Linked DNA regions of Homo sapiens: region 2 is linked to region 1. Evidence: fine-mapped expression QTL. A gene starts in region 1. The other region holds a variant in brackets. All regions are shown on one strand. Distances are from middle to middle. Region 1 holds the start of H3C2 (H3 clustered histone 2). Region 2 has its middle 10 kb from the start of H1-2.

Region 1 (5,384 bases):
CATTTTCACTTCTTTTGTGTTTCTTCAGTTACTTCAGGCCATCTAGAGGCATACGTGCAGTTCACAGGGGATATGATGGCTTAGCTTCGGCTCAGAGGCCTGACAAACTGAACAACTGGGAACAAACAACATTTAATGCACACAATCTCTATCTTGTAGGGAGGCAAAATTTTACCTCTACTCTGTTAGGGTCTCCAGCTGGACCTGATAATTCATTTGCCATAAAACAGATTAGCAGAATGAAAGCATACAAATGTATTTAATGTAAATTTTATGGGACAGGAGAACCCTCATAAAAAAGTGAAGCCCCAAAGAAATGGCAAAAGCTAAATGCTTTCACATTAAGTTAAAGAGAGGCAATTGTGGGAAAGTAAACCATATGAGGAGATTAAAGGAATATATGATTATTTTAACAAGGTTTGTTTGTGTATAGAAGTCTCTCGGCTATGACTCCCTGCTGTGTTTGTGCAGAATTATCTCATCTATGCCTCTGGGCTGAAGAATATGTCTTTTCACCTGGTACAAGCAGAGCATTTTTCACATTGGAACTTTTATCTCCTGTTTTCAGAAAGAAAAGTTTAGAAGAATTCCCTTCTTGAATGCTGTTTTTGAAGTGCCTTTAGCTCAAAAGAATCCTGATCCCACAGTGGTCTATTTTTGGATGGTATATTCTGCAAACAACACCCCCTTTTTGTCTCCAATCTCTCCTTAATTACTCCTCTAATACAAAACAATAGATTCTTAATATAATATTAAAATGTTTGCACTACTCACAAATACAAAATGCTCAATAAATTTTCTTTCACAAATGAGAATTTCATCCATTCGTTAATTTTTAAATATCAACTGTCAATGAAGAGTTACAGCAGAATCCTTGTTCTGTTGAGGAGGGGGCAAAGAATGTAAGTGAGGGAGTGGAAAATAGCTGGACTGAGCTACCACCCCCTGTCCATCTGATCCTCAGACAGTAATGTAACTTTATTCTTTTATGCTATTCGTCAGACCCAGTACCTCCAACACATTTGTTTCCTACAGATAAAGAAAATATAAAAAGTCAAGCGCTATACATCAGATCCAGCACATCTATAACTGGAAAAAAAATACTTGACCTTCAGCTGGGCCCAGAGCTTGTGAGTAGTCACCTTGGCATAGACCAAGTCCATTGGCATCTCTAACATATCTATACTGTCTGTGGATAACAAATGTCTATGCCAGTTAGAGTCGCTTGTATAAGAGTCAAGAAAAACGAATCATAAAACAAACTGACATATTCATTTTCATAATTTTTAAAATGCAAATATTACTTTATAAACCAAAAACTGCCTTATTAAAAGCTGGAACACAAATGAATTTAAGTAAACGATGCAATTCAAATTTAATCTTTTGTGTGTGTGATTTGTTGTTGTTGACAGTTGGTCAGGCGATTTTAGTATGGTACATCAGTTTACATTCTAGATGTAGGCCAAGAAAGAATGTTAGGTGTAAAAAATATTTATTGTAAAAAAGAATGTGAGGCAAGGTCTTTGGAATTAGTAGTTTTAATGTTGGACATTCTGTGGTTGTTCTAAAGTTAGTCTGTAAAATGTGATGTAAAAGCTATATGATAAAAAAATACAAAATATAAAAATTTTAAAGTAAATATTACTTTTGTTTGCGTACAGTATTCCCATCCCTCTAAATTTTCTTCCAGTACTCAATCCCCAACCTCCAAAACCGAAAAGCAAGATCAACAGAAAGAAAATGGTTAAAACTTGTAAATTCTAGATTTTAATAACTACAGGCAAGAAGTACTGAAAAAAAGAATGTGGCATGTCATGGTGCATAGTCCTAGAGGAGACAAAGCAATGCAACCAGATAGACTATTTACAAGCAAAGCCACACATATAAAAATTCATATATAAGGGATTAAATTATGCTTGGTCGACAGACTGACAGATTTAAAGTGGGTAGCTAGCTATGGATAAAATGAGAGCCAGTTAGATCCCTGCCTCACATTTTGCACCAGAATAAATTTCAGGTTAATGTTAACAGCCAAATGAATTTAACAGTATATATATATATATATATATATATAATATATGAGAAAACCTAGGGGACTATGTATTGAGCTGAGAAAATCTTCCTAAGCATTTTGAGGAAGACACTGGAACTCGCAAGACACAATTTTCTAATCTTTTCAAAGCTTTGCAAAAATGCCTAGTAAGCGCCAGTTAACTACTTACCAGATTTTTCCCTTACTCTTACAAAGTTGTTTAAACAAATGCTAATCATAGCAAGCTAGAGGCCTGAATGATAGTGGACTTACACAGCTTCTCTCCAAATAGCACCTTAATAAGGTCAGAAATAACCTACACTGCAAGACTGACCAAACCGTTATTTCTGTTAATCAACTTTAAGACCATAGTCTAATGCTTTCCGGGGGGGTCCTTAGAAATTTGTTCTGTTAAGACAACAAAAAATTATCACAGCTACTTTCGTTGGAATAAGTGGGTGGCTCTGAAAAGAGCCTTTGGGTTTTAAGACTGATGAAAAAGTGACTTTACATTTACGCTCTTTCTCCGCGAATGCGGCGAGCGAGCTGGATGTCTTTGGGCATAATAGTCACTCGCTTAGCATGGATGGCGCAAAGGTTTGTGTCCTCAAAGAGCCCTACCAAGTAGGCCTCACAAGCCTCCTGCAGCGCCATCACCGCAGAGCTCTGGAAGCGAAGATCGGTCTTGAAGTCTTGGGCGATTTCTCGCACCAGGCGCTGGAACGGCAGCTTCCGAATCAGCAACTCGGTCGACTTTTGGTAGCGGCGGATCTCGCGCAGAGCCACAGTGCCCGGGCGGTAACGGTGAGGCTTTTTCACGCCGCCGGTAGCCGGCGCGCTCTTGCGAGCAGCCTTGGTAGCCAGCTGCTTGCGTGGCGCTTTACCGCCGGTGGATTTCCGAGCTGTCTGTTTAGTACGAGCCATGGCAAAACCACAGAAAAGCTTGCCTGCAGAGACGTCTGTGGAGGAAAGGAAAGAGCTACTCTTCTTTTATAGAGTCAGACCACCAACTATTGGACCCAAGAAAATTCAAAAATCCCCGCGCCCTTCTTGGATTGGTCCATCTCTGTGCCTGGTTGCAGATTAAGAGAGGCTCCTGCCCATTACCGTAGCTACTCTGACGTCATTTTGTTAACCCCTTAGCTGCTATATCCACTGTGGACAAGTCTTGTACTGGAAAAGTTTCCTGAAGTCTTAAAATTTACAACCACACAAAGCAACGCGGAAACCTCCAATTGTTTCTAGTTAAAATATAAAAAAGAAATCAGAGAATATTGGAGACGATTAGGGAAATTTGCATATGCGCTTTATTTAAAATTGTATTTTTCTGGGTGTCGCATAAGAAGTGTGGGCAATTAGAAAAATGCTCTTAGCCGGGCGTGGCGGCTCTCGCCTGTAATCCCAGCTACTCAGAAGGCTGTCAAGAGGATCGCTTGAGCCCGAGTTCGAGGTTACAGTGAGCTGTTATCACGCCGCTGCACTGCAGCTTGGGCGAGAGGGAGACTCCACCCCAAAACAAAGCAAAACATCCCCAAACTGGAAAAAAGCTCATTTTGGGAAATACATACTCAAATGTTCAGTGGTAATGTGTGTGCTCTCAATTGTGTATGCCATTAATTGCTACAGCAAATGGTATGACATATTCAAACTTGTGTGGGGCATGCGGGTTTTAACACTTCCATTCAAGATAGTTAGGAATGCACTCATGGGTATAATTTCCTTCCTCTAAAATGTAGTAACTGCTGTGTGTGAAACTTAACGCGAATCACCCCTGTAAACATGTTTTGTGCTGCATGGCACTTCTCCCACATACCTAGAATTCCTGAGGTTTCTATGGATCTAATTTCTGCAGGACAAATTACTAAAAGTGCCACACTCAAAGCCATTAAAAACACCTCAAAAACATCTTTATGGGCGGCATAATCCAAAGCACAACAGCTCATTTAATGGAAGTCGTAGGTGGCTCTGAAAAGAGCCTTTGCTGTTAGGCTGATTTTGTCTGCTGACAGAAAAACAGCAGTGCATGAAGCGTTAACTCTTCACTTTCCCTTGGCCTTATGATGGCTCTCAGTTTTCTTAGGCAGCAGCACCGCCTGAATATTAGGCAAAACGCCACCCTGCGCGATGGTCACACGCCCCAAGAGTTTATTAAGCTCCTCGTCATTGCGGATGGCCAATTGCAGGTGGCGCGGGATGATGCGGGTCTTCTTGTTGTCGCGGGCCGCATTGCCCGCCAGCTCCAGGATCTCGGCGGTCAGGTACTCAAGCACCGCCGCGAGATACACCGGCGCGCCAGCCCCGACGCGCTCGGAGTAGTTGCCTTTGCGGAGCAGGCGGTGCACTCGGCCCACAGGAAACTGCAAACCTGCACGAGAAGACCGAGTCTTAGCCTTGGCGCGAGCTTTACCGCCTTGTTTGCCGCGACCAGACATAACTACTTCTGATAAGGGAAAATCGCCACAAGAAAATGTAATGAAACTACATTAGAACGCAAGGCAGAGAAGTATTTATACTGACTGGAGGTAGGCTGTGAGGAATTCTCCCATTGGCTAATGTCAAATACCCAATGGGAAATCAGAATCTGCATCCTTCATTTGCATGTAATCCTTCCGTCTGGTGTAAGGTTTATGTTTGACCCAATCCCCAGTCTGGCTTGACGAGCCTTCGACTTGAATACTAATAATAATTGGCCGAATTAGGATTTTGTCAAAATACCTTTTTTAAGCATGAGTGGAGGTTTTGTTCTGGTTATTTTGACTTTCAGCCGCTCGTGCTTTTCCCGGATTGTGACTCATGTTTTTGGAAAGGAGTGGACTCCGACCAATTTCTAAATAGATATTTAAGAGGTCCTTCAAATCGGGCGCAGTGGCTCATGCCCGTAATACCAGCACTTTGGGAGGCCGAGGACGGCGGGTCAGGCGTTCGAGACCAGCGTGGACAACATGGAGAAACCCTGTCTCCAGTAAAATAACCAAAAAAGAAACGGGGGAGAAAAAGAAAAAAAAAAGCCGGGCTTGGTAGTGCACGCCTGTAGTTCCAGTTACTCGAGAAGCTGAGGTGGGAGGATCGCTTGAACCCGAGAGGAGGAGGTTGCAGTGAGTTCACATAGAGCCACCACACTCCAGCGTGGGCGACAGAGCCAGAAGACTGTGTCTCAAAGACAAAAAAAGGGGAGGGGGAGTGGGAGGGAAGAAAAGCGAATACCCCAAATCCCAGTGAACTGTAGAAGCTTATAAGCTCTCTTGATTCATAAGGGAGAAAGAAGGGGGATGTAGGCAACTTAGGGGAGAGTATATGATTTTGGAGAAAAATAAATGGGTGTTTCAAAGAATAGGTGACAGCTGTGACAAAG
Region 2 (5,384 bases), 35 kb after region 1:
TTGTTTGTCATGACTGTTATCAGTAATATTAATACAGACAGTTAACTGAACCCTTCCTCTGCACCAGGCATTATATGGACTATTTTCATTCTGACTCCCTGCATTCTATGAGACAACCACCATTGTAATCATTCTCACGTTGCCAATAAGGAAATGGAGAATGAGAATTCAGACTTCTCCAAGAAGTGCTGCAGACTGATTATAAATCATGCATCCTAAACACACACATATTAAAGTATCAACTAAATCAAACAGAATAAAACTTTTGTTTTTCTATCTACAAAATGCATGAATTAAAATATGCCCCAACTACTTAACTAATATATTTAGTAAGTAGAGGGATGGAAGCGTTTTCACTCCTTCAATACATTCTTCATCAACCTCTCTCACCTTACCCCTCTGTCACAGGCATTTCCTATGTCATGCGGTTTTTCTGATGTACGCTAGGTGGCAGTCAAAACCACGAACTCTTGAAAGAGAGTATATTCCTATTTTTCTGCAGCCTCAACCTCCAGGGCTCAAACGATCCTCCTGCCTCAGCCTCCTGAGTAGCTGGGGCCACAGGTGCGAGCCACCACACCTGGCTAACTTTTACATTTTTGATAGAGACGGGGTCGCCATGTTAGCCAGCCTGGTATCGAATTCCTGACCTCAGGTGATCTGCCCGCCTCAGCCTCCCAAAATGTTGGAATAACAGGAGTGAGCCACAGTACCTGGCCGGTAATTTTTAACTTCTAGCTATACACTTAGTTTTTTGTCCTTTTCAGTGGACAGAAATTATAATGCCTGTTTGACAGGGGATAATTCTGAGGCACTGGGAAGCCATGAGACTGCATGGATTGCACAGGCAGGCAAGAACATGGGAAGGAACAAGTGTCTTAGACACTTGTCTCAGTGGTCTAGAAAAATCATGCTAGCTGATTCATTCACTCCACAAACAACTGATCAACATCTTCAAGAAGCCTAACAATGTACTGAGTTCAGGGGACAAGAAAATAATTCAGACAGGCTCTACCTTCATGGTGGTGTTTGAAGAATAGGGATCTAGAAAACGGTAGGTAATAGTGGCTGTGCAAAAGATATCAGAGATGATATGAAAAGGAGGGACTAGACCATTTTACCCAGGAGTGGAGGTTAAACATAGGGTCTTTAAGGGAAACGTAAAAATATTAATTCTTTTCATTTTTGAAGTAAAATGACCATCGCTTCTCGGCCGTTTGGCTAAGAACAAGTGAAGTAAAATGACTGAGGATGACAGACATAAATACTGCTATACAAACATGGTAGCACTGAAATTGGCTCTTGCCTGACAGGAAGCAAAATTATAAAATTCATTATTTAGATATATCAATAATGATGGTGATCAGGCTGTAATAATAATGTTATTAATCATTATGTATCAATAAGAATACAGGTGTGTGACTTTACAATGTGCCTAAGAGCAACCCAATATTTTGATTGTAAACCACATTCCCTTAAACACACACACACCTCAAACAAGACCCCATAAAGCAGACTGCACTAAAGTGGAGGTTATGTAAAAGTCCAACAGAATAAGAACCCTCCCCCATTGTGTATTAATCTGTGAACTAAAAAAAAATTTCATTAAATTGAAAATATCTAATTGTCAACTAGCAATTTTAAAGAGTTTAGGCAGAAAATGAAATATAAAGCTTTTTTTTAACTTTTAGATTTTTCAAAGCTAGCAGAACTGCTGAAGAATAACAATTCAAAACATAGGTTTGCTTTGGTTTCAATCTCTGTAGCCAAAGGCATTTACAATGTAGGATGTTGTTTGTGCTTTCAGACACTAGATGACGCTCCAAATCAAAATGCCGGTAGTTGGACAGCCCCTGATCAAGCCGCCCGGCAAATCATTAACTGGGTTGACACTGTATTACTCAGCAGATTTCAAAACTCATTCACATACAGAGTCTTTTGGTGGACAAAAATAATTATTACCCACAATTGACAGTGACAGTACTGAGAAGCTGGGAAACTGAAGTAGGACCCTGGAGCAGCCAAGTACAGAGACTGGCTCCCAGGACCTTAGGAGTTAATACTATTCCTAAAGAGAATAAATTGTCAAATAGACAAGAAATTCATGTGGGTTGATGCATTCACTTCCCCAAAACAATTATTAAGCAGTAGAAATGATAACTACGCTGGTAGTGGAAATAGTTTACAGTAAAAGGGAGAAGACATGCAAAAACCAAAAAAAAAAACGGGGCCGGGCGCAGTGGCTCACTCCTGTAATCCCAGCACTTTGGGAGGCTGAGGCGGGCCGATCACGAGGTCAGGAGATCGAGACCATCCTGGTTAACAAAGTGAAACCCCGTATCTACTAAAAATACAAAAATTAGCCGGGCTTGGTGGTGGGTGCCTGTAGTCCCAGCTGCTCAGGAGGCTGAGGCAGGAGAATGGCGTGAATCCGGGAGGCGGAGCTTGCAGTGAGCGGAGATCACACCACTGCACTCCAGCCTGGGCAACAGAGCAAGACTCCGTCTCCAAACAACAACAACAAAAAAACAGGCAGTGATGTTTTATGTGGGTCAGTGTGAAGTAGAGATCAAAGGAGAAAACGGCCAATCTTACCAAATAATGGATGCAGAAATAATCTTCATGGAGAAGCCACTTTAATTATGTCTTAAATGAGAGTAACAAATTAAACATAAGAACCTGTAGGGGCTAAGGGAAAACTTACTCTTTGGCCTCTGAAGAGTCGCTGAAAACCACCGACAAGAGGAAGATTAATAGGATAAAATGCATCCAATTTATTATTATTATTATTATTATTATTATTATTATTATTATTTTTAGACGGAGTCTCACTCTGTCACCAGGCTGGAGTGCAGTGGCGCAATCTCGGCTCACTGCAACCTCCGCCTCCCGAGTTCAAGCAATTCTCCTGCCTCAGCCTCCCCAGTAGCTGGGACTACAGGCATGTGCCACCACGCCCAGCTAACTTTTGTATTTTTAATAGAGACGGGGTTTCACCATTTCGGCTAGGGTGGTCTTGACCTCGTGGTCTGCCCGCCTCAGCTCCCAAAGTGCTGGGATTACAGGCGTGAGCCATTGCACCCGGCTGCATCCAATTTATTAATGTGTATATTAATAAATTATCCAATTTATATCCAATTTATTAATGTGTATTAACATGTACAGGGGAAATTGTCCATTTTTATTTTTTAGATTCAACAAAGTATGGGCCGCCGTGTAGAAATAGGATTGCTAATAAACAGAGTAGGGAAACCCAGCAAGGCCTGTCTGTCTAGATTCTTCTTCGC[C/T]TCTCTGTGCAGCATTCCTTCCTTCTGGATCCTCTCTGGAATGCGGTCTGGTGATCTATGATCAAATAAGGTAGTTCAGATAATTTCTTTATGGCCAGTTTTTACACAGAAAAACAGAGGGAAAGTTAGAGTAATATTTTTAGGTTTTATGGCTGGGCTCTGGGGAAAAGGTGTTTTGATTTCTATGACCTAACTTGAGGAAGAGGAATTCTCATTTCTATGGCTAGACTCCGGGGAGAATGGGACTCAGAGACAGGAGGGCAGGAGAAGATCAGAGAAAAACTTTGGCTTCTGCGGTCTTTATTTTGGGGTATTGTTTTCTGAGTTCCAACAAACCCCAAGGACCTACAAAGACTGCATACTTTTTTTTTCCTTTTTATTAATTGTGAGATAACCACAGCATAGGCAATTTGTTTTTTGTTTTTGTTTTTGAGACAGGATTTTGCATTGTTGCCCAGGCTGGAGTGCAGTGGCATAATCATAGCTCACTGCGTCCCCAAACTTCTAGGCTCAAGAGATCCTCCCAGCTTAGCCACAACTGAGAGGTGCTACTAGCATTTAGTGAGTAGAGAACAGATATGACTAGAGGTTCATTAAGTGTTTTGAGCCTTTACAGCTTCAAAATTGTCTTTGCTAACCCCTAACTTTTGGATGCTACAGAGGGCCCCTGGAGTATCCAAAGGAGAGGTAAACAGGATCATTTGACACGTTTAGTTATATAGGATTGTTGAAATAAGGTGATATTTGATCTTCAGGTCATATTTCAGTGAAAACTGTGAATGTGTGTTCCAAAATTATAGGGGATTTCTAGAGTTCTGATATCTGAGTTTGTGTCATCAGTTATAATTAGAGTTATTGTGTTAGGCTATTGTAAATCACAGAGGTGACTAAATTTCTTTGTCAATTGTGTTTTTGACTGTGACTACCCTAGGACATTTTAACATTCATAGACAAATGTTGTCTTGTTTTGAAACTCTGCAAAGAATGGATTATAACCCTCAATTGCAGGTTTCTGATAACTTTGAAGATTGTGAACAGGAGTTAACTAGGTGAGCTGAACTATTGGAAAACTAATCTTCTTGACTCTTGCCTCTGTACCTAATTCTTCCTGGATGCAGGACAAGAACTCAGGCAAAGGTGCTGCAGCATAAAGTCTGGCCAGAGAAACTGACACTCCAGAGGTTTTGTAACAATATTTTATGTTAAATAATTTATACGTATTTCCTATTCTAAGCATTTCAAGTGATTGTAAAAACTCAACTCATGAAAACTTATAGCTGAGATGATGTATCCTGTGATTTTTAACTCAACTTTATACCAATCTAAGTTGATTAGCATTCTTACAAAGTTTAAGAAGTTAAGATTTGCCATATTAAGTATTGTCTTAAGATTTTTAAGAATTGAAAAATTTGGAGCAGTTTTGTTCATTAGTCAATTGGATACTTTAAAAGTCCAGTATGTCAGATTTAAAAATTGCAATTTATAAGTTTTCTTCTTAAAGTTCGTCAAATTGCAAAAGCCTTGCCAAAAATGAATGTTAAAAATTTGGTAGATTATTTGTTCTATGGGTTCTATGGGAAAAAATTGGTAGATTAATAAATGCCAATAGTAAGCATTGTAAATTGAATTTAAAAGTTTAAGGAAGAGCTATTAATTTAATTTTGTCATAATAATGAATTGAATGTTGTTTTTTAAGTACCATAGTACTTGCTGAATGATCTTTCTGTATGGAAAAGGACATAAAAATGCACATTGGTAACATCAACTCTATTTCAGCGGCGGGATTGTGGGGTGAGCTTATCTCCAGGTTTGGGAAGGATGTGTTGTATCATCTGCCTCTTGTGTGTGTACTACCTGCCATTGCTGCTTGGCCACCAGCATCCATCTTGGTGAGTCCTGTCTCCCTCTAAAAGACTCGAGCTGTGCTGTTCAATCCAGTAGCCCCTAGCTACATGTAGCTATTGTAATGAATTAAAATTAAGTAAAATTAAACATTCTGCTCCTCAGACACCAGTCACATTTCAAGTGCACAATAGTCACAAGTGGCCAGTAGCTAGTTTTGAACAGTGTGGAAAGATTTCTGTCATCACAGAGCAT

What was found. PIP is the estimated chance that this variant, and not a neighbour inherited with it, causes the effect.
Region 2: its variant is the best candidate, but not a certain one, in a credible set for the expression of H3C2 in whole blood (INTERVAL, PIP 0.83).

What each region holds. Positions count from the first base shown.
Region 1 is chr6:26,029,105-26,034,488 of GRCh38, forward strand. It overlaps H3C2 (H3 clustered histone 2), which reads right to left and starts at 2,995. Exons shown (of 1, transcript NM_003537.4): 1 at 2,485-2,995. The coding sequence starts at 2,956. The coding sequence ends at 2,546. H2AC4 (H2A clustered histone 4) reads right to left here and starts at 4,514. Exons shown (of 1, transcript NM_003513.3): 1 at 3,988-4,514. The coding sequence starts at 4,464. The coding sequence ends at 4,072. RefSeq lists enhancers at 2,632-2,861, 2,902-3,021, 3,959-4,588, 4,892-4,951, 4,992-5,041 and 2 more and a silencer at 4,372-4,471.
Region 2 is chr6:26,064,270-26,069,653 of GRCh38, forward strand. No RefSeq gene overlaps it. Among named protein-coding and RNA genes, the nearest start is that of H1-2, 10 kb to the left of the region's middle. RefSeq lists a silencer at 358-497 and an enhancer at 2,344-2,843. The variant C/T (reference allele first, on the strand shown) is at 3,288.